Homo sapiens: one gene and its partners. The protein of the gene in region 2 purifies or fractionates together with the protein of the main gene of each other region. This does not show direct contact. Each region holds a gene or a part of one and is shown on either strand. Other genes may lie near its edges. The genes, in order: IGBP1, TIPRL and ATP6V1A.

The links.
Region 1: the proteins of TIPRL (region 2) and IGBP1 purify together in Homo sapiens (affinity purification with western blotting; 2 studies listed by BioGRID and IntAct, with this or other methods). This does not show direct contact.
Region 3: the proteins of TIPRL (region 2) and ATP6V1A fractionate together in Homo sapiens (co-fractionation; 2 studies listed by BioGRID). This does not show direct contact.

Annotation. Positions count from the first base shown.
Region 1 is NC_000023.11:70,128,725-70,136,461, forward strand, and holds the start of IGBP1 (immunoglobulin-binding protein 1), read left to right. Parts: upstream 1-4,722; 5' UTR 4,723-4,816; intron 4,817-4,998; 5' UTR 4,999-5,223; coding exon 5,224-5,411; intron 5,412-5,798; coding exon 5,799-6,092; intron 6,093-7,737. UniProt on the Homo sapiens protein: Associated to surface IgM-receptor; may be involved in signal transduction.
Region 2 is NC_000001.11:168,174,530-168,182,015, forward strand, and holds the start of TIPRL (TIP41-like protein), read left to right. Parts: upstream 1-4,432; 5' UTR 4,433-4,548; coding exon 4,549-4,652; intron 4,653-7,486. UniProt on the Homo sapiens protein: May be a allosteric regulator of serine/threonine-protein phosphatase 2A (PP2A). Isoform 1 inhibits catalytic activity of the PP2A(D) core complex in vitro. The PP2A(C):TIPRL complex does not show phosphatase activity.
Region 3 is NC_000003.12:113,743,202-113,750,111, reverse strand, and holds the start of ATP6V1A (V-type proton ATPase catalytic subunit A), read right to left. Parts: upstream 3,078-6,910; 5' UTR 2,999-3,077; intron 1-2,998. Other genes in the region: NAA50 (N-alpha-acetyltransferase 50), read left to right, coding at 4,163-4,170. UniProt on the Homo sapiens protein: Catalytic subunit of the V1 complex of vacuolar(H+)-ATPase (V-ATPase), a multisubunit enzyme composed of a peripheral complex (V1) that hydrolyzes ATP and a membrane integral complex (V0) that translocates protons.

The DNA of each region.
Region 1 (7,737 bases), on a different chromosome or scaffold from region 2:
GGTGGGGATCAATCAGAGGAAAGCACGCCAAACAGGAAGAGAGGTTCTCAATCCGGTCTGTGGATTTATTCGAGACTTGTAGCTTGGTTTTCAGACTTTAAACTGTCTTTGGTTTGAAGGTCAGGTTTCACAGGGGACCCGCCCCTGTCTGCCTAGGGATTTGTCTGCCTCCTGCTGCTATCATCAGGCTAATAGTATTGTTCAACTATGGATTCGTTCATAATTTGAGTTTGCAAGGCAAAACAGTATAGATGATGTGAGTCCATGGGCAATTATTAGGACAACTGCACCCATAAAACTTCAGGGTATTTGGATGAGGATGGCTACAGTAAAAAGTGCCATGTGGCTGCTTACAGAAGAATAGGCAATGAGATATAGAACAGTTAAGGGGAACTATAATCTTGTAACAGGGTCTACATGATTTTGAAGCAGTAGGCAGCAAACAACTATGAGGAATCAGGTCAGAGGGCAAGCTGACCTCATGAATTCAGCATGAAGCTGAATTTGCTGCGAGTTTGGTTTATTTTTTTTCTCTCCCTCCCTTCTTCCCTGATTAATTTTATGAAGTTTATAGGGATTGTTTCAATTGAAGCTTACACAGCATCCTGAACTACAGAAAGGAATAGGGGCTTGGGGCTTCCTGGGGGCTGGTGGCAACACAAGAGTTATGGGAGAGCAAGGGAAGGAAATGTGTGGTAACAGAGGTTGTCTTGTTATGCAGATAAAAAGTCTTTCAGGTAATAAAACTTCTCTCAAAGCAGCTCTCAGAAGAATAGGTGATTGTCTGGGTGTGGTGTCAGCCTCCGATCTCCTCTCCTGTGATCCAAGTTAATCTTCCCTGGTTGGTAAGATTCCTAGAGAGGGGATTCATGACAATTACATTCCTTTTGGAGGAGCCAGCTTTAGGCAGATAAGGGGAGCTCAGAGACAGCCTCTGCCTGTATCCACTGTTCCCCAAGTGCCCTTGGTTCAAATAATCAGCATACCAAAGTGGCATATTTTGGGATGGCATCTCCTGAACTCCTTCACATGTAAAGTACTTAGCATAGTCACTTGGCAGGATGTGAGCGCTCAGAGAAGGTTAGGTATTATTATGATACAAAGTTATTCATTTAACATTGAGTCTCTCCTACCTACTGGGTGGCAGGTTCTGTGCTAGAGTGAACAAAGATGAGTAAGACACTCTCCCTGGCCTTAAAGAGCTCTCAGTTTAGTGAGAGACAGGTGTGGATAAAGATAACCACAGTACAGTACTATCACAGGGGGATGAATCAAATGCTATAAGAGCTAAGAAGGAGGTAGCCTCGCCTACAGGGGAAAATCAGGAAGTGCTTCCCAGAGCAAGTGATCTTTGAGCCAAGTTATGAGTAATGAATAGAAATTTGCCAGGCACAGACAAGGAAGATGACATTCCAGGCAGAAGGTACCACCTATGTGAATGCATGAAGGCCTAAGAGAACATGATAGGTTTGGAGAACTAGGAGAGTTTGCTAAAGATTCAGCTTAGGATCCACGAAGGAACAAAATGAAAAGGATGTCAGCAGGCAGATTAGAAAGGATCTTAAAGTCATGTTATTGAGTTTGACCTTTAACAGAATGCCCCTCCGGGCCAAAGTTATTCTCTCCATTCCTCTAACACCTTGAACACACCTTTATCAAAATATTTATCAAATTAACATTTGATTATTTGTTTACCTGTCTCTTCCGTGGAACTATGGACCCCTTAAGAGCTTAAACCTCGGGTAGTGTTCGAATTCTCAATGCCTAGCATTCAGGTAGCACACAGCATGTATGGAAAGAGCAAAGGAAGGAATTTCTCCAAGGTCCCACAGCTATTCAGTAGCAGAGTTGGGCTAAAGGGATCCTCCCACCTCAGCCTCCCAAAGTGTTGGGATTACAGGCGGGAGCCACTGCACCTGGCCAGATTAATGCTTTTTATATTGTGTTACTTAGAGCCCTTGAGTCCCTCACCTGGAGTGCCACTCACTGAGCAGGTTGAGGAAGATGGGCCAGTGGCTGAGTTGGCAGGCTTCTTTGTATCCTCTTCAAATACATCAGTCCTTTTAGAAATTACAGGCTCTCTAAAACTTGTTTTGGAAAAAGAATTATGCTACTACAAAAAGTTTAAGTACCGTTATACTTTCATGATTGTTAAGTGCCCTAAACTAGGATTTTAAAAAGTCTCCCATGCACAACAGGAGTTTAATATGATAAAGTGTTTACACACAAAACACAGCAAACGACTCGTTTTTATTATTCCTTTTTTTCTTTCTTTTTTGTGAGACAGAGTCTCGCTCTGTCGCCCAGGCTGGAGTGCAGTGGTGTGATCTCGGCTCGCTGCAGCCTCTGCCTCCCGGCTCACTGCCTCAGCCTCCGGAGTAGCTGGGGTTACAGGCCCGCGCCACCATGCCCAGCTAATTTTTGTATGTTTAGTAGAGACAGGGTTTCACCATGTTGGCCAGGCTGGTCTTGAACTCCTGACCTCAGGTGAGCTGCCCACCTCGGCCTCCCAAAGTGCTGGGATCACAGGCATGAGCCACCACGCCCGGCCATTATTCCTTTTTTTCTAACCACTTTTTAATCTTGGTATTCTTTCAGAATAAGATGAAATGCAATGCTTAAAATGACAACTCTAATATATAACAGGCACTCTGAAAGTAATTGGCATCTCCCATAAAGACCGTCATTTTGGCTGGGCACACTGAATCACGTCTGTAATCCCAACACTTTGGGACGGTGAAGCGGGTGGATCACTTGACCTCAGGAGTTTGAGATCAGCCTGGGCAACATGGCGAAACCCCGCCTCTACAAAAAAATACAAAAATTAGCCAGGAGTGGTGACTTGCACCTGTAGTCCCAGCTAATTGGGGGGCTTGAGGGTAGAGGATCACTTGAGTCCAGGAGGCGGAGTTTGCAGTGAGCTAAGATCGTGCCAATGCATTCCAGCACTCCAGCCTGGGTGGCAGAGTGAGACCCTGTCTCAAAAAAAAAAAAAAAAAAAGACTAATTTTGAAAGCCATAAAAAATGACTTACAAAGTTTAAGACCAAATTAAGACTGTGCACATTTTTTTCCTCTTAAGTAACAGTAAAGACATGTTTTAATCCAAGCAAATGCAGAGAAGCAAATTATCTTTACTCTCACAATTACTACATTTCTAAGTCTCCTCCACAAGTACTATCTTTTTCTTTATATTCCCTGCCAAGCCTGACCCTGAAAGGTCAGTTTACTAGAGGTGCCAGATAAACCAAATAGGTAATTCGCCAAAGCCTCACTTCCTTCTTAGTTTATAAAGCAGGGGTTGCAAGGGAAGGTTTATTAGAATCACCTGGGAAGCTTTTTCAACCTACATGTGTGCCACAGCCTCCTCTCCCTCTTAGGAAGCACTGTTCTAGTTTGGGGCTTCAATCTGTCCCACATTAAAGGTCTTCATCTTTCTAAATCCTACCCAACTGAAGGTTAATGGAGTAGAAACAATTGAACGCAGAAGTCACTGACTTTGTCACAAACTGGCTGGACAAGTCCCTTAACCTTTCTGGTCTCAAGTTTTTCCTCCGATTTTGGGGGTTCCCTTTAAACTTTGACATTCTTCTATGTGACCGCATGTCATGTCTAAGAAGCCTTCTGAACTACTCCTAGCATGGGATGACTTGCCCTTTCTTGCTTTTCCAACAGCCTGTGCAATACAACATATCACCTATTTTATACTGTCCTATATTGCCCTCTAGTTGTTTTTTAATGAAGCTTTTTTTCTTCTCAACGATATGTAGTTTAAAATACTAGTTTAAAAGTTTATTTTCAGGGGTAGACAGTGTGCCTGCTACTTAAATCTCCTAGGACAATTCAGGCTGCGTCCTAAGGTAATCAGTATGTATTTATATTGCTTTGTTCAAAACAATGACGTCCCTTCTTTGAAGTCCTGAAATTATGTTTTCCATCAGTTCTGTCCAGTAGAAATATAATGGGAGCTACAAATATAGTTTTAAATTATCTGGCAGGCACATTTACAAAGTGAAAAGAAAGAAGTACAATTAATTCTAATAATATATTTAATCCAACATATCCAAAAGACTATCATTTCAACATGTAGTCCATGTAAAAAGTATTTACATTTTTCATTCTTTTTTTTTTAAATGTCTTTGAAATCTGGGGTGTTTTTTACACTTGCAGCACATCTCGATTCAAAATAGCCACTTTCAAGTGCTTAGTAACCACATGTAGCTAGTAACTACCTACTGAACAATGCTGTTCTGCATAAGTTGGCTGCTTTCCAAACTGATCACTTTTTTTTTTTATTCAGATAATGACTGATACTGAGTACTCAGGCTAGCCAGAGTGGTGCAAAGATGAGTCAAATTCATTCTGATAAGAGAGATTTGTAAGTCACTAGCAATTATACAGCGTGGTAGGTGCCATGATAGAGATGCATAGGAGAAACCCAGACTTGGCGGCTGAAGGGCACAGGGTGGAAGGCGGTAGAGAGACAAGGAAGGTTGCACAGAAATAACATTTGATGTAGGAACTAAGTGCACGAAGGGAAGCCGGCTGTGCGGTGACCGGAGTTGCAGGTTGCCAATCTTGCTGAGGGGGGCTCCACCGGACGCCGGCCTACGGGTCGTAGGCGTGTGTGGGGTGAAGGGGGAAGAGGACGGGAGAGGATTGGCTGGGAGGAACCCGGAGCTCCATCTGGTGGGTGGACGGAAACCGCAGGGGGGCGCTACTTGCACTTCGCGCTCAAGCGACCGGATCTTCAAACCGTGGGAGTGGTGCGGCGGCTAGAGTCCCTGGACTCCTCAACCTAGGGAGCTACTCGCGAGGTAAGGGGCGCGCCAGACTGGCTCCTAAAACGCACTCGCTCGTCCGCACTCCTCGCGCTCCGAATTCAGCCTCGCCTCACCCGGGCTTCAGAGCCCACAGAACTTCTCAGCCCCGTGTCGGCGACGAGGAGCTCATGGTAAAACAGCGCCTAGGGTTTTGCTTGTTTGTTTGCTTTTAACAGATGCCTACGACTTGTAACGGGCTGCCTGGTAAAATGAGTCTATGGAAACGGTTGCCAGGGCCGGCTAACAGCGGCTCCCGGAAGTCCTTTGATGCTTTGTTAACAGTGAAGCTACTGGACCAATGAGGTGCTTCTTCCGGTTTTGTCCGCGCTCGCCTAATTCTTCTTTATCAAGGTTGCCTTTGACCCCGGAAAAGAGATCTTCCGGGTTCCTCTCTCCCCAAGATGGCTGCTGAGGACGAGTTACAGCTGCCGCGGCTCCCCGAGCTGTTCGAAACTGGTAGACAGTTACTGGACGAAGTAGAAGTGGCGACTGAACCCGCCGGTTCCCGGATAGTCCAGGAGAAGGTGTTCAAGGGCTTGGACCTCCTTGAGAAGGCTGCCGAAATGTTATCGCAGCTCGACTTGTTCAGGTATGGGGGAAGATAGTAATAATGGCTGAGAACGAAGGTAATAATGGTTACCAAGGGTGGAGCCATTGCGCCTGAGTGGAGGGGACCTTTAGTGGTGAGAACGTTTCGTTCCTACTTACCACTGCGATCTTGTGTACATTGTTTACATTCCCCACCTCTCTTCCCAGATGGTTGATATCTTACGACTCTGCTTCCTAGCGTCTGCTGATTGCATAGGCATTGGGTGTGAGCCCTCAGCCACTTTCATTGAGTGAAACTGGCCGCTGTTCCCCGTGCCTCCTCCCTCTGGTCCACTCCCAGCCCAGCCTCCCACTCCGTCCCCCAGAAAGCAAGGGCCACAATTTGAATGCCTAGTCAGGCTTCACTGCCTCCTTTTTGCTCTTCCAGCCGAAATGAAGATTTGGAAGAGATTGCTTCCACCGACCTGAAGTACCTTTTGGTGCCAGCGTTTCAAGGAGCCCTCACCATGAAACAAGTCAACCCCAGCAAGCGTCTAGATCATTTGCAGCGGGCTCGAGAACACTTTATAAACTACTTAACTCAGTGCCATTGCTATCATGTGGCAGAGTTTGAGCTGCCCAAAACCATGAACAACTCTGCTGAAAATCACACTGCCAATTCCTCCATGGCTTATCCTAGTCTCGTTGCTATGGCATCTCAAAGACAGGCTAAAATACAGAGGTGGGTCAATAGCTATAATATGAGGCCTGCCCAATGGCGGTGCTTTTCAGGGGCATGCTTTCTTGGCGGGTGGTGGGGGGCCAGAATGGTATGTGTCACTTTCTTGGTTCTTATTGAGCATAGGCCCTAGGGAGAGCAAACTTTCCTGAGTTTTTCCAAGAAGCCTCTGCTTTTGTTGAGATGATTATACCTACTTATCAGACCCTTACTACCTTATGGTTGGCAACAGCAGCAATGTAGTTTAGCAGAGTGTCTCCCAACCTTTTCCACATCACATCATAGCAATGTTCATATGGTACAGTGGGGTAGATGTCTCTGAAAGGCAAAGCTAGGCCATTTTATGGTCCACTGATTGAGGAGCTCTGTTCAGACTACTGGAGTAGATGTGTAACATCCTGAACTGATCTTAGTCCTGGCACAGCTTCATTGTGTGACCTTGGAAAAGTTGCTTACTTTCTTAGGTTTTTTTTGTTGTTGTTGTTTGTTTTTTAAACAACATTTAATGGGTGGTCATGATGTCTAGGAACTATGCTAGGCACTGGGGATACAAACTGTATAGGTATTTGTGTGAGTATGAGTGGTCCCTGCCTTGGAGGAGCATACAATCTGGTGAGGAAAACGGGCATAGAAACAGAATATCAATATAAACTGATGTTGTGGAGGGATGCACAAGGTACTATGAGAGCAGACAGGAAGGGCACCTAACCAAAGGGAGCAGGAGAGAGGAGAAAGCTCCCTGGAAGAGGTGACTCCTGTGCTGAGTTCTTTAAGGGTAAATAGGAATATCCAGGGGAAGAGGAGAGGAGGGCATTAGCCGGCAGAGTATGTAAAGCCTTAGTAAAGCCACAGAGGCATTAAAGAAACAGTGGTGGGTGGAGATGTGTAGACCAAAAACAGCAGCTATGAGCAATTAGGTGATGGTAGAACACAAAGAGGGTGGTGGTAAGGGGGAAGGAATGATACTGAAGAATGTTGTAGGGTCCACATCAAGGAGAGCCTGGGATGTGAGGAACGTGAAGAGAAACTTGTTGCTGAGAACTTGGTAAGGTGTTTGAATCCCAGCTCGACGACTGTGATTAATCACTGTGATTTGTGGTAAGTTATTTAATCTTTCAGTACCTTAATTTCCCCAGCTGCAAAATTCAGATAATAATAGGTTCTTCCTCATAAAGTAGTTTATGAGGATTAAAAGAGAAATATATATAAAGCAGTTAGCCCAATGTTTGACACAGTAAACACTCAAAGTCAACTATTATTATTTGTGGCTAAGAGTATGGGTCATAGAGTCAGAGACCTGGGTTTGAGATCCAGCTTTACTTATAATCTGTTGGACTTTGGGGAAGTTATTTAACCTAACTGAGCCTCAGCTTTCCTCATATGTGAAATCTAAGTAATAATGGTACAGATGGTCCCCGATTTGCGATGGCTTGTCTTAGAATTTTTTAACTTTATATTGGTGCAGAAGCAATACACAGTCAGGGGAACATCAATAAATTACATGAGTTATTCAACACTTTATTATAAAATAGGCCTTGTGTTAGATGATTTTGCCCAACTGTAGGCTAATATAAGTGTTCTGAGCATGTTGAAGGTAAACTAGGCTAAGCTATGATGTTCAATAAGGTGTATTAAATGCGTTTTCAAC
Region 2 (7,486 bases):
GTCCTCAGTTCTGGAAACGGTGGCATGGTACTTCTCTATCAAGGCCAGTTCATAGAAAATTATATTATAACATGACTTAGGGTAAGATGCAAATGACTGATTATGTGAATTAGTGGTCTGTTACCCTATCTAGAAGCAGCTGAAATTTTAGATGATAAATTAGTACATTTACTATGGAGAACAGTATGGAGATTCCTTAAAAAACTAAAAATGGGCTGGGTGTGGTAAATCATGTCTGTAACCCCATCACTTTGGGAGGCTGAGGCAGGAGGATCACTGGAGCCCAGGAGTTCGAGACCAGCCTGGGCAACATAGCGAGATCTCATCTCTACAACAAATAATAATAATAATAAAATTAGCTGGGTACAGTGGTGCCTGTAGTCCCAGCTACTAGGGAAGCTGAAGTGGGAGGATTGCGGGAGCCAAGGGAGTCAAGGCTGCAGAGAGCTATGACCATGCCTCTGCACTTCAGCCTGGGCAATAGAGCTAGACCCTGTCTGTTAAAAAAAAAACAAAACAAAACCCAAAAAACCTAAAAATAGAAGTACCCTATGATCCAGCAGTCCTACTGCTAGGAATATACTCAAAAGAAAGGAAATCAGTATATTGAAGAGATACCTGCACTCCCGTGTTTGCTGCAGCACTATTCACAATAGCCAAGATTTGGAAGCAACTGGAGTGTACACTAACAGACGAATGGATAAAGAAAATGTAGTGCAGGCTGGGCGTGGTGGCTCACGCCTGTAATCCCAGTACTTTGGGAGGCCGAGGCAGGTGGATCACGAGGTCAGGAGCTTGAGACCAGCCTGGCCAAGATGGTGAAACCCCGTCTCTACTAAAAATACAAAAATTAGCTGGGCATGGTGGCATGAACCTGTAATCCCAGCTACTCGGGAGGCTGAGGCAGGAGAATCGCTTGAACCCAGGAGGCGGAGGTTGCAGTGAGCTGAGATTGCGCCACTGCACCACTCCAGCCTGGGCGACAGAGCTAGACTCTGTCTCAAAAAAAAAAAAAAAAAAGAAAGAAAATGTGGTACATACATGCAATGAAGGACTATTTGGCCACAAAAAAGAATGAGATCCTGTCATTTGCAACAACATGGATGGAACTGGAGGACACTATGTTAAGTGAAATAAGCCAGGCACAGAAAAACAAACTTTTCATGTTCTCTCTCATTTATGGGAGCTAAAAATTAAAACAATTGAACTCATGGAGATAGAGAGTAAAATGATGGTTACCAGAGGCTAGGAAGGGTAGTGGAGAGGGGCAGAAATGGTTAATGGGTACAAAAATATAGTTAGACAGAATGAATAAAATCTAGTATTTGATAGCACAATAGGGTGACTACAGGCAACAATAACTTATTGTACACATGTAATCCCAGCACTCTGGGAGGCCGAGGCGGGTGGATCACAAGGTCAGGAGTTCGATACCAGCCTGACCAACATGGTGAAACCCTGTCTCTACTAAAAATACAAAAGTTAGCCGGCCATGGTGGTGCGTGCCTGTAATCCCAGCTACTCAGGAGGCTGAGGCAGGAGAATCGCTTGAACCCAGGAGGCAGAGGTTGCAGTGAGCTGAGATCGCACCATTGCACTCCAGCCTGGGTAACAGAGCGAGACTCCATCTCAAAAAAAAAAAATTACTAAAAGATTATAACTGGAATGTTTGCAACACAAAAATATAATAAATGTCTAAGGTGATGGATATCCCATTTGCCCTGATGTGATTGTTACACATTGCATGCCTCTATCAAAATATCTCATATACCCCATAAATATGTCTATTATGTACCATAAAAATTAAAAATAAAAAAATTTTTAAATAAAAAGAAATTTTAGATAGAAAACAAAACCTAATCTTGGCCAAAGGAACCTCAGAAAAACCTTAAAAACTGAATTCCAGGCCAAGATGGGAAGAGAGGTTAGACACACCTCTATACCTTCTCCCTTTTAAAGTTTAGGCACAACTGACCAACATTAAGGTTAAACTAGAGATCATAAGACTGACAAAACACTCTGTGGCAATAAGATACCATATTATAAACAAGACCTAGGCTGGGCGCAGTGGCTCACGCCTGTAATCCCAGCACTTTGGGAGGCTGAGGCAGGCGGATCACGAGGTCAGGAGCTCGAGACCAGCTTGGCCAATATGGTGAAACCCCATCTCTACTAAAAATACAAAAATTAGCTGGCCGAGATGGCGCGTGCCTGTAGTCCCAGCTACTTGGGAGGCTGAGGCAGAAGAATCGCTTGAACTGGGGAGGTGGAGGTTGCAGTGAGCTGAGATCACGTCACTACACTCCAGCCTGGGTGACAGAGCGAGACTCCGTCTCAAAAAAAAAAATAAATACAAATAAACAAGACCTGCGAGCCAGGCGCGGTGGCTCACGCCTGTAATCCCAGCACTTTGGGAGGCCGAGGCAGGTGGATCATGAGGTCAGGAGTTCAAGACCAGCCTGACCAACATGATGAAACCCCGTCTCTACTAAAAATACAAACATTAGCCGGGCATGGTGTTGCATGCCTGAAATCCCAGCTACTTGGGAGGCTGAGGCAGGAGAATCGCTTGAACCTAGGAGGTGGAAGTTGCAGTGAACCGAGATGGGGCCTCTGCACTCCAGCCTGGGCGACAGAGCAAGACTCTGTCTCAAAACAAAACAAAACAAAACAAAACAAAAAAACTATGGCCATGCAAGGCAAGGATTAAGTCATGCCCTACAAACCATAAAATGTCGTTAAATGGTTTTTTATGTGCAATGGTATAATGTGCCTTACTTTCCAACCTGACTGGTGTAGAATCACATGACAGATAGCAGACTCCCTTTTCTTAAGCATTCCTTTCTACTGACTTCAAGTCTTTAGACAAAGCTTAACACTGTTTTTTGTTTGTTTGTTTGTTTGTTTTTGAGACAAGGTCTTACTCTGTCACCCAGGCTGGAGTGCAGTGGCACGATCTCGGCTCACTGCAACCTCTGCCTCTCAGGTTCAAGTGATTCTCCCACCTCAGCCTCCCTAGTAGCTGGGGTTACAGGCATCCACCACCGTGCTTGGCTAAGTTTTGTATTTTTAGTAGACACAGGTTTTCACAATATTGGCCAGGCTGGTCTTGAACTCCCGACCTCAGGTGGTCCACCCACCTTGGCCTCCCAAAGTGCTGGGATTACAGTCTTGAGCCACTGCACCTGGCCTGTGTTTTTATTTGTTTTTGAGACAGGGTCTCGCTCACCCAGGCATGAGTGCTGTGGCATGATCATGGCTCAATGCAGCCTCTGAGGCTCAAGAGATCCTCCCACCACAGCCTCTCAAGTGGCCTGGGACTACAGGCAGATACCATCATACACAGCTAATTAACACGGTTTGTAGAGATGAGGGCTTACTCTGGTGCCCACGCTGGTCTCAAATTCCTGGACTCAAGCAATCCTCTCACCTAGGCCTCCCAAGATGCTGGGATTATAGGCAGGAGCCACCTCGCCTGACTAAAGCTTAAATCTTTCAACAGATTGCCGATCAGAAAATCTTTGAATCCACCTATGATCTGTAAGCCTCTCCTTCAAGACATCCCACTTCCTTAGCCTGAACCAATGTATATCTTCCATATATTGACTTATTTTACCTGCAATTCCCAACTCCCTAAAATGTATAAAACAAAGAGTAATGCCACCGCTTCAGATGCTCTTTGTTAGGACCTCTTGGGACTATTCCCTGGGCCATGGTCACTCATATTGGTTCAGAATAAATCTCTTTAAAACCTTTTACAGAATTTGTTTTTTTTCCATTAACAAAATCATCTCATTTTGAGGCAACTGAAGCCTAAAATCGTTAGAGAAGCGCTTTGCCCAAGGATTCACACAATAGTGTTGCAAATGGAGATTTAGCACTAAGTCAGCTGTGTTGTTTTCACTATACTGGGTGCCTACATAGCAACTAGACCATGGAAAGTCTTCGCATATCTACGAGGATGCAATTTTTGATAGGAGTTGGTCATAGTCAAGAGTGGCTAGATGGCCACTTCTAAATCTTGTTGGTGCTGGATTTCCTAAACTCTGTGGGATTACTTCTTTTTTTGACCTCAAAACAGAAAAATTTCCTCTGTAACACGATTCACTAACACATGAGGTAATCACACTGCTTTGAGGTCTGTAAGGATCAAGTTGGAACCGTCATCCCCTTCCCTGGCAGTCCCTAAAATCCTTCGAGATGACGTCACCCAACGAGTTCAAGAGGGCGGTGCGTTCCTAACCACACCTTCTGCAACCCAAGTGCCGCCCCTCTGACTTTCTCCTTTTTCCTTTTTTCCGGAACGCCGGAACGTAAGACGTGGGTCACGCAACAAGAGCAACTAGTCCCGGAAGCAAAAAGCAAAGAGGCGGAGAAGAAGACGGGAAGCAGAGCCCGCGTCCGGGTCGGCCGGCAGGGGGCGGGGCCGGGCATGGTAACGGCTCGGAAGCCTAGGAGGCTGGGCCGGAGGGAGGCGGAGGAACCGGTGTTCGCCGCCGCCGCTGCTTCAGCTTATTCCTTGTGGCCTCTGCGGGTCCTGCCTCAGCCATGATGATCCACGGCTTCCAGAGCAGCCACCGGGATTTCTGCTTCGGGCCCTGGAAGCTGACGGCGTCCAAGACCCACATCATGAAGTCGGCGGATGTGGAGAAGTGAGGCTTCGGGGCACGGGGTCTGGGCGCTGGCCGGTTGCTGGCCCAGGGCGGGAGGCAGGGCGAACTCTGTGCAGCCCCTCCCCTTTTCCCTGAGGCGGAGGTTCGGTCCCTCCGGACCGGACCTTTGATTGACAACTTCGATAAATAATCCAGTCACACTTCCGGGCCCTTTGGTTGGGGATCGCCAGGCGCTGCTTTCGTCAACTGTCAATCCGCCTGGGTTTGAGTAGAGTGTGACTGTTCTGGTGGACTTTCCCCTCACCAAACGTCTCCTCCTGCCTCAGCCTGCACCACCTTTCTTTCTGGGTGGCTGTTGCCTGTTTTCTTAGGGGTTAATGACGGGGATGATTTATAAGTTTGGTTTCTGTCACGTCAGGTGCTGTGCCCGGCGCTTGAGATAGGAAATGTAAAAGACAACGTGCGCCTCAATTCACAGTCTCGTGAGAGAGACAGACAATTATATTACAGCGTGAATAAATGTAATGAAGATGTATACACGGAGTGATGTGAGGTCTTTTAGGGGCTCGAACCATCTGGGAAATTGGGATGCCTGAACTGAATCTTTATAAAACCGTTGCGGGGGGCGGTGGATAGGTACATGCCATCAGGTCAGGCAGAGTGAGTTGTGATGCGTTTTTGATGCCTGGGCTGAATCTTGACAAAATTTAGGGGAATCAGGGGACGCATGTAAAGCTGGGGGCTCAGGGAGAGTGAAAGCTGTGATGTGTTTAAAGAGCTGTGTCCGTGTGATTGGAGCGTGAGGTACCATAGGGGGTGTTGTGAGAGATGAGAGGTAGGCCCCAGGGGAATCAAGATACTGAGGGAATTTTTATGCCTGGCTAAGGAGTTTTCAATTTTATCTGACAACCACTGGGTGTAATTTTATCCAAAGGAGCTGCATTATCAGATGTACGCTCTGAAAGATTTCTCTGGAGGCCATGTTGAGGCTGGATTGCAGGTCCGCAGGGATGGGAAGGAGACCAGTTAGTAAGAGAAAAGATAGGTTTTAGAAGATTAAGTCCCTGGGATGGCCAGCTGATGGGAGGAGAAATAAAAAAGGAAGAGTCTATGCTGATGACAAGATCTCTGGCTTGGATTTTTGCATGTATCGTATGCCTTTGAACAAGATGAGAAGCACAGGAGGAGGAGAAGCAGATGGGGGCAGGGTGTTGGTTAGAGGATGAGTTTAGTTTATTGAAATGTGAGGTGGGTATAGGTCATAAAGTGAAGATGTGTAGTAGGCATTTAGATATATTTATCTTGGAGCTCAAAAAAGATAACGTCTGTGGGTTTAAGTTTGGGAATTATCTGCTTATATTTGGTACCTGGAGCTTTGGGAATGAATTAAGGTATCTAGAAGTCATCCAGAGGAAAAGGTCATAAAATAGAACCCTAAGTGAGTACTTGCATTTTAAGATTTGAGCAGAGGGAGTGACCAGGGAAGAGAGGAAAGTAATGAAACGATGTTTGCTTCCTAATTCAAGAAAATAAGTGGTAATATTCTAGTAGACTCACTGAAAAAAATTAGGAAAATACAGAAAAGAAAGGAAAAAAATTTCCCTTCATCCCACCAGAAATTGAATTACTTTTTTGAGTTTTTCCTCTCTATATCTTTCTTTTCTTTTTTTTTTATAACTTTTTTTTTTTTTTTGTATTTTTAGTAGAGACGGAGTTTCTGCATTTTGCTCAGGCTGGTCTCGAACTCCTGACCTCAGGTGATCTGTCCGCCTTGGCCCCCCAAAGTGCCGGGATTACAGGCATGAGCCACTGCGCCCAGCCTTGTATAACTTTTATTTATTTTTTATTTTGTTTTTTTGAGACAGAGACTCACTCTGTCGCCCAGGCTGGAGTGCAGTGGCACAGTCTCAGCTCACTGCAGCCTCCGCCTTCCAGGTTCAAGTGATTCTCCTGCCTTAGACTCCCTGGTAGCTGAGACTACAGGCGCGTGCCACCACGCCTGGCTAATTTTTGTATTTTTATTTATTTATTTATTTTTAATTTTCTTTTCTTTTCTTTTTTTCTTATTCTTTCTTTCTATTTTTATTTTGAGATGGAGTTTCACTTGTTGCCCAGGCTGGAGTGCAATGGCGCCATCTCGGCTCACTGTAACCTCCACCTCCTGGGTTCAAGCGATTCTCCTGCCCAGCCTCCCAAGTAGCTGGGATTACAGGCATGCATCACCACGCCCAGCTAATTTTGTATTTTTAGTAGAGATGGGGTTTCACCATGTTGGTCAGGCTGGTCTTGAGCTCCTGACCTCAGATGATCCACCTGCCCTCGGCCTCCCAAAGTGCTGGGATTACAGGCATAAGCCACCGCACCCGGCCTCCTCTCCATATAACTTTCTGTGACAAATTGCCGATTGGTGCAAAAGTAATTGCGGTTTTTAATTGCAAAACCGCAATTACTTTTGCACCAACATAATACAATATATAATTATATTATATATAAAGCAGTCAGCTTCAAACTGGGGCCCCCATGTAATTTACTTACAGATTCTCTAAGCGATGGCTGTATACATGGAGAGTTTTAAGGGAATAAAATTCCATATCTACGATCTCCTTATGTATTATTTTAAAAACAAATTTGCCTGAGGCCGGGTGCGGTGACTCACTCCTGTAATCCCAGCACTTTGGGAGGCTGAGGCAGGCGGATCACCTGAGGTCAGGAGTTCAAGACCTGCCTGGACAACATGGTGTAACCCCGCCTCTACTAGAAATACAAAAAAAATTATCTGGGGGTGGTGGTGCAGGCCTGTAATCCCAGCTACTCTGAAGGCTGAGGCACGAGAATCACTTGAACTTGGGAGGTAGAGGTTGCAGTACGCTGAG
Region 3 (6,910 bases), on a different chromosome or scaffold from region 2:
CATATAACTAAAGTGGCAGAGCTGAATGAAGATCCTCTGACTTTTAGTCTAGTGCTAGTCCACTTATAGATCACGCAGAGCCACTTTTTCATTTAGTACGATTCATTCCTCTTCCCTTCTCTCCCATATTTTGATGATAACCATACTTATTAGTAAACAAACATGCTGTGAAAATAAGTTGGTCTCAGCATTAATAAAGTCCATCTGAGGTTTTTATCTATTGTATTGACCATGAATTTGGAAGGTTATTACCAGTTTATATTTAAAAGCTAACATTTAGTGCACAACTTTAGGAAGAGCTATGATCTGCAAAAATTAAAGTGGTTTAATTTCTTTGTCTAATTGCCCAACATTCATTCAATAAATAATTTATTGAGTACCTATCAGGTACTTCAGTATTCTGGTGCTGAAGACACAATAGTATTATAGTTCACAGTCCTGAGAGCTTTATGATTTGCTGAGGAAGAGCCCAGGGAACAGGAATTAAATACAATGCTAGAAGTGCAAGTAGAAGAATAGAAAAGATGATGATGATGATTAGTAGTAGTCTATAGGACTGAGTGGCTACCTCTGCCCATGGGGAAGAAAGCATTCTTAGTGGTGGCAAAAATCTATAAAGGCACTGAAAACAAGAACTCAGGAAAAGAAAACCAGAAGTGCCAAGGGCCCTAAAATAAAACCAAACCCTTATGCTTTATTTAATAGTGGACTATAGCACAATTCCCTAATAAATGTTAAGATTTCTACATGTAACACTCATAAACTGATAAGGCTAGTCTCAGAAATGTTTTCCAGGCTTCCAATCGTGTGTGTGTGTGTGTGTGTGTGTGTGTGTGTGTGTGTGTGTGATCTGTGTATAATGTCAAAGCTTTTTTTCACATTTAACCTTACTAGCAATGTAATCACCAATTCCCACTACTAATCTACATTTCATCAGTGGTCTAAGTTATTGCTTTCACGAGTTCCCTAAAACTGGGGGAATTGTGAAGTAAAACTGCAGACTCATCCAACCACTTTCATACTGACATTTTCCCCTCTAGTAGTCAATGCTTCTAGCTGGTTTTCTCTTTCACATTTTGGTCTCAGCCAGACAGGACTAGTTAGGACTTCCAGACCACATAAGGAATTCTCCTTACGTGGTGCAATGTCACCTGGTCACTGAAGTAACACTTCCTTTTTTTCTTCCCCTCTCCTCTAGAGATCAAGGAACCTTATTATGGAGAAAATTAATGGATAAAACTACATATATATATCTACAGCAGGCATGATGACATAAATATATCAATACATTAGTCTATTGTCCAGTATGGGTCGTAAGTACGAAATGCTAAAATGGTAAATCCACAAGAGATAGTAGTAATCTTCATTACTTGGGGAAAGCAACATCTCCGAGGTTATGTTTTCTACTAAGGAGCATCAATAAGCTAGGTTATGTATTTTGCACTTACTATAAAAATACTTTGTTAAACTGCTGCTATTGTAGAATTTTAACTTTTTATTCTCCTTAACAAAATAAGACCGTTTATTGTATAGAATTTGGAAGACACAGAAAAACAAAAATAAATCAGTCACATCCACCAAAGATGATTCCATCTTCCTCATTTTCCAGCAGTCTTCTTTAATTACCTTAGTTAGAAAACTACAAGATTTAACTGAGCATATAATTTTTCATATTAAGAAAGGTGTAATTTAAATTTTAAAAATCAAATTTGTAATATTCGTAAGACCTTCAATTGAAAAGCAGCATGGAATTTTCTGAGTTTGCAGTATAAATAAAAGAGTTTAACCACAAACTGAAAAACATTCTTCCCTAAAGCACATTGTTTGGGATCAAAACATTGGTAATAATACATTATGGACGGAATGGGAGTACTTGGGTTGGACAACACCTGTATTTTCAATTGGACAACAATTTCTGTATTTTCACAAAATACTATTCATCAAAATCTGAAGAGGGCACCGGGAGTTTTACAAATGGGGAAAGCTAAAGAGGGATACAAATGCTACTTAACCTAAATTTACCACAAAGCCGATCAAGGAATAGATTGGGAGTGCCAATTCAGTAGTATTTTAGGGGAAAATGACAAAAAGGGAAGGATTGACGGCAGAAAACATGTGCAGACAGCAACATCTCGACTTGATTCTACCTTTAAGCATATGGCCAAATCAATTTGGTTTAACTATTTCCAACCCAATCAGTTTCTTATTTCGGTTTCAGGGAACCCTACTCACTCTTCCCTAAACCAGCCTGGGCCTCCTGCACACCACAACACCACAATACCATCTTTCAACGCCTCCTCATTCAATCGAGACTGTCGCATTACTAACACCTCCTGTTTTGAAGACAGTATTCCTTCAACTGTCCTCTCTGCAGAGAAGAAAAAGTAAAAGCCCTTCTTTTACTTTTCTAGTCCCATCCGAAGCACGTGAACATCTACGGAACCTTCCCTGCAGGTATGTCAGATAAAATCCTTAGAATCACTGAGAAAGCACATTCGGAGGGAAGCTTCACAGTGACTCTGCAGTGAGGGCCGTATCAGTGACAGTCCCTCCCAAGCCTGTCTCACCGGAGACGCCTCTGCCTCCAGGGTTTTTGCTACCTCCCCGCTCCTCAGCCCTGAGCTGAGGGTAAGGACAGTGAGGACCTTTGCCAAAGAATGGGCTTTAAGGAATGGGACCTAATGTCTACTGCAGACCCTGTGAAATGGCTGAAACAATCTGCTACCCGAAGCCCCAAAGGCTCTGAGTAGGGAACCATAATGGCCGCACTCACTTCCAACCCTGGGAAAGGTGGACATCTGAATCCCCAAGTAGCGGGAACGACCACACTTGGGGGAGCGGGGGTTAAGGAGAAATGAGCTCCTTGCCGGTGCAGGGTGACAGCGGGGAGGAAGCCTCAGGCAGAAAAGTCGCCGTTCACACTCTCCCTTCTCTCCTTCCTCTGCCTCCTTCCACCCCCTCTATCCCCACCACTCGCCAGTTACCGGTCGCCGCTCACCTGCTGGGGCGCGAGGTGCAGAGACTGTACCGACCGAGGACCCAGAGGCTGTCACCACGGAGGGGAAGTCCTCAGCTGCACAGGTTGGGGGGGGGGGGGGGGGCGGGCCCAACCAGTCACATGACGTCGAGCTCCGCCCTGCCTCCTCCATCCCAGCGCTCTACATCTCGGGGGGCCTGAATTTTTACGGATCCCTTGAATATTAATTTTCTTGGATTAAAGAAATAAAAGATAAATTTTCACAAAGAGTATGTTATAAAGTACAATGTGGAAAATGTGGACAGCAAGAGTTAAAGCGCATTGCTAAGGAAGTGACGTTCACGCCACAATCGAGGGACAGGAAATGGCGGTGGCGTTCCGTCCCTCTGGAGTCCGCCGGTAAAATTCCAGGCTCTGAGGTTTGGGCCAATCACGTGATCTTAAAACTTGAGGCGTGCTGGAGGGTAGCCAATCTATCTGGCCGATTGTTAACTACGTTTGTTTTAAAACACCTAACTTAAACTTGAGCTTTCCACAGATTTCTTTACATTTAGAAGAACTAACTTTATAAAACCCTACTAGGAGGCAACAGCGTTTGAAGGTCACTCTGGAGACCACAAACTGGGAAGAACGGGGCTGAGAAAAACTATCTTGCGGATATGGGACAAGAGAGGGAGGGGTGGAAAAATCTGGATTTTACCGCCAGGGCCTACCGAGCCAGCCCCACAAGCAGTGTCGTAAGCGGGTGGGAGGGAGGAGCATGACCCCAGAAGGCCCAGTCCAGGAGAAAGATGGAGGTTCCGGAGTGGAGGGGGCAGGGTGCGCGGAGGCGAGCAGTGCGGCTGCGCGTGAGGCGGCGGCGCGCCGGCGCGCGAGGGGCGGGGTGAAAGGTCACAGCGCGGCAGCGGGTCTGGCTGGCGGCAGCGGCGGGAGGGAGCCGAGAGACCCGAGTGCACGTGTGGAGAAGCGGCGGCACAAGCGCGGCGGCGGGAGACACTCCCGCCCCCACCAGACTCAAGCCCTCACTCGACTCTCGCGGCCTTCGTTGCTCGCACAGCTCCCTGCCCAGGCTAGGAGGCCGGCTTGCGGGGTTGAGTGGCCCGAGCTAAGGGTGCGGAGACCTAAGGGCGGCGACTACGACGGCGTTGATATCGGTGGTAACGACGGCCTCAGCAGGCGGGGAAGATGAAAGGGTGAGGAAGGGCAGCCGGGCAGGGCCCGGCCGGTGGGGTAGAAGGGTCCGGGCCCATGTAGAGGGGGAGAGCCGCAAAGGCGAGGAGAGATTCAGGGCGAAGACGGGCGGAGGGAGATTTCTCTGCTTCTCAGTTCCCTCGGCTCCCGGAGGGGGCGGAGGCGAGGCTCGGGCTGTTGGCGGGCTGAAGGGCCAGCGGAGGCAAGACCCGGGGGGCTTCAGGGTTTCGGTTCGGAGACGAGTGTGGGTTGTTGAGTGGGGAGAAGCGACCGAGTGGGGCAACATGGAAAGGCTATTGTGAAGCGCCCGGGGCCTCCTTCCCGGGAGCGGACCGCTGAGCCACGCCGGCCCGCAGCTCCAGGTGGAGTGGTTTGGTTGTCTTCCACCTCCAGACTCAACTCTGGAACTGCGGTGTTTGACACCTTTCAGTTTAATTCACGCTTGGGAGCTGTGCAGAACCTTCTGGAGGAAGAAGAAATTGGAATAAAGAGCACGGGGATGAGTATTAAGAGCTAGTGACTCAACTAGATTTGGGTTGGGTCACAGCGAGTGGAGGAGGGGGAGAGAGCGCGATCACTGTAGACTTGGGGTGCCAACATATTTAAGGAAGTATAGGGTGGATCAGTAGGTGGAGCTGTTGCTTCAGTAGTTCACTATTGCCCCTGAGTGCTGAGGCGGTCCTGGGTAGTTCTACCACGCTGCTCCTTTCAGGTGATTGGCAAAGTTAATGTTCGGTCTTTCACCGTTTGCCTCTTACGTAAAATTAGGAATTATTTTGGATCGACTGGTTAAGTTTTTATGAAATGTCTCCTTACCATTAAGTTGTATAGTTTTAATGTATTAATTACGTAACATTTTTCCGAAGCATTGTCTCAAGCCGTTTTGGAGCTTGTCTTTACCCTCAAAGAGATGAAGCTCATAAACGTTAAAAAGCTCTCTGCGATGCCATAGTTTGTTGTTGTAAGTCGATTAAGAAGTCGTAACTATGTTTTAAGTTAACGAAGTCATTCCAACTATTCAATAGCACTTTTGAGGATGAAATAAAAGTCACTTTCAACGTAATCTCATACTGCCCCAAACAAGGACCTAAATATTACCTCTGTGTATCGGTATTTGAGGTTCCTGAAGAGATTCCAAGAAAGTTTAATTTGGTCTTAGGTCTGTAACATGTTTCCTTACTTTAATTTTCCTTTAAATACTGGATATTTATTCTAATGTTGAATTGTATGTTTTGTACTAATAATCTTTAAAGTTTAAGAACCATGAACTATTCACAGTACCTGCATTGTTTCACATCAAGTTGTAAAGAGTTCCAGTTAGGGAAATATAATTGACGGGTATAGGAAGTATTTGCTCCACTTGAATCATGATCTTGGAAGTTTGGCTATTTCAGATACAATCCAACATATTTGGAGAATGTTGTTTTTCTGCTATACTGCACTCCTTTTGTTTTGTTCTTTTCATTTTTTTTTTTTTAATGAGGCAGGGTCTGGCTCTGTTGCCCAGGCTGGAGTGCAGTGGCGCTATCTCGGCCCACTGCAACCTTTGCCTCCCCAGCTCAAGCAATCCTCCCGCCTCAGCCTTCCGAGTCGGTGGGACCTCAGGCGCGCACCACCACGCCTTGCTAATTTTTTGTATATTTTGTAGAGACGGGGGTCTGACTATGTTGGCCAGGCTGGTCTCAAACTCCTGAGCTCAAGCGATCCACCCACCTCTGCCTCCCAAAGTGCTGGGATTACAGGTGTGAGCCACTGAACGCGGCATATACTGCACTTCTTGAACATGGTTGCTGACTCTTACTCATTTTTGTACTCATTGTCAGGCACTCAGTACTTGTTTGTCATGTTCTGTTAAGTAAGAAAAATGAGGCTGAAGAGTTCCCAGTGTTGAAATTGCCATGGATTTACGAAGGGGTTGCCAGGAAATTATTCTGTATGTTTAGATCCAAAATCTTCAATCTAGTTCAGTCTCCATAGGCTGTGATGTTCTTTCTGATACATAACTTGGCGATAGAAATGAAGCTGAACAGTCATATTATTCACAATCTACCTTGAATTAATATATTCATGGAGCAATTATCTCTGTTTAAAATGGGTATTTACATGTAACCTGATGAAGGCAGATCCCTAGAAATAACTGGCCGAATTTAGAGGAAACTTACAACTATTGAATCTGTACCTTTATGCCAGTAACTATGCCAGTGAAGTTCCTATTACTTCTTATGATTGGGAGCTTAGAATTGTGTTCTTTACTGTAAACCTTTAAGATGATTTCACAGGAATAATCCCTTTAACTTAACAAATGAACTAACTCCCAGATGAGATGAAACTTTTTAATTTTTTTTGCTTCTAAGTCTGTATTTAAGACACTCAACAAATGAGTTGTGTGAATCTTACTTGTGCTTGTTCGGATACTGAACCTACAACAGTATAGGTTTAAAATAAGTTAAGCGCCTTGAGTTCCAAAACTTGTACCACAGTGCACAGTGTGGTCGATTTTAAAGTCCTGACTCTTAATTTGGAATGGCCTGTAAAAACGAAACAGTGGTCCTGGTTATGTGGCTTTTGTATGAAATTTTATTTGCTAAGTATTCTATTGTATATTGAGGTAAGTAAACAGTAAATTGAAATATCTAAAATTGGAAACTGCGGAAGTCCCAACACGAAGCCAGTCAAATATTTAAAATTGTACACTGTTGCCTATGTTGCCTATCATATTGAAACTTAAAACTTAGCTGGTTT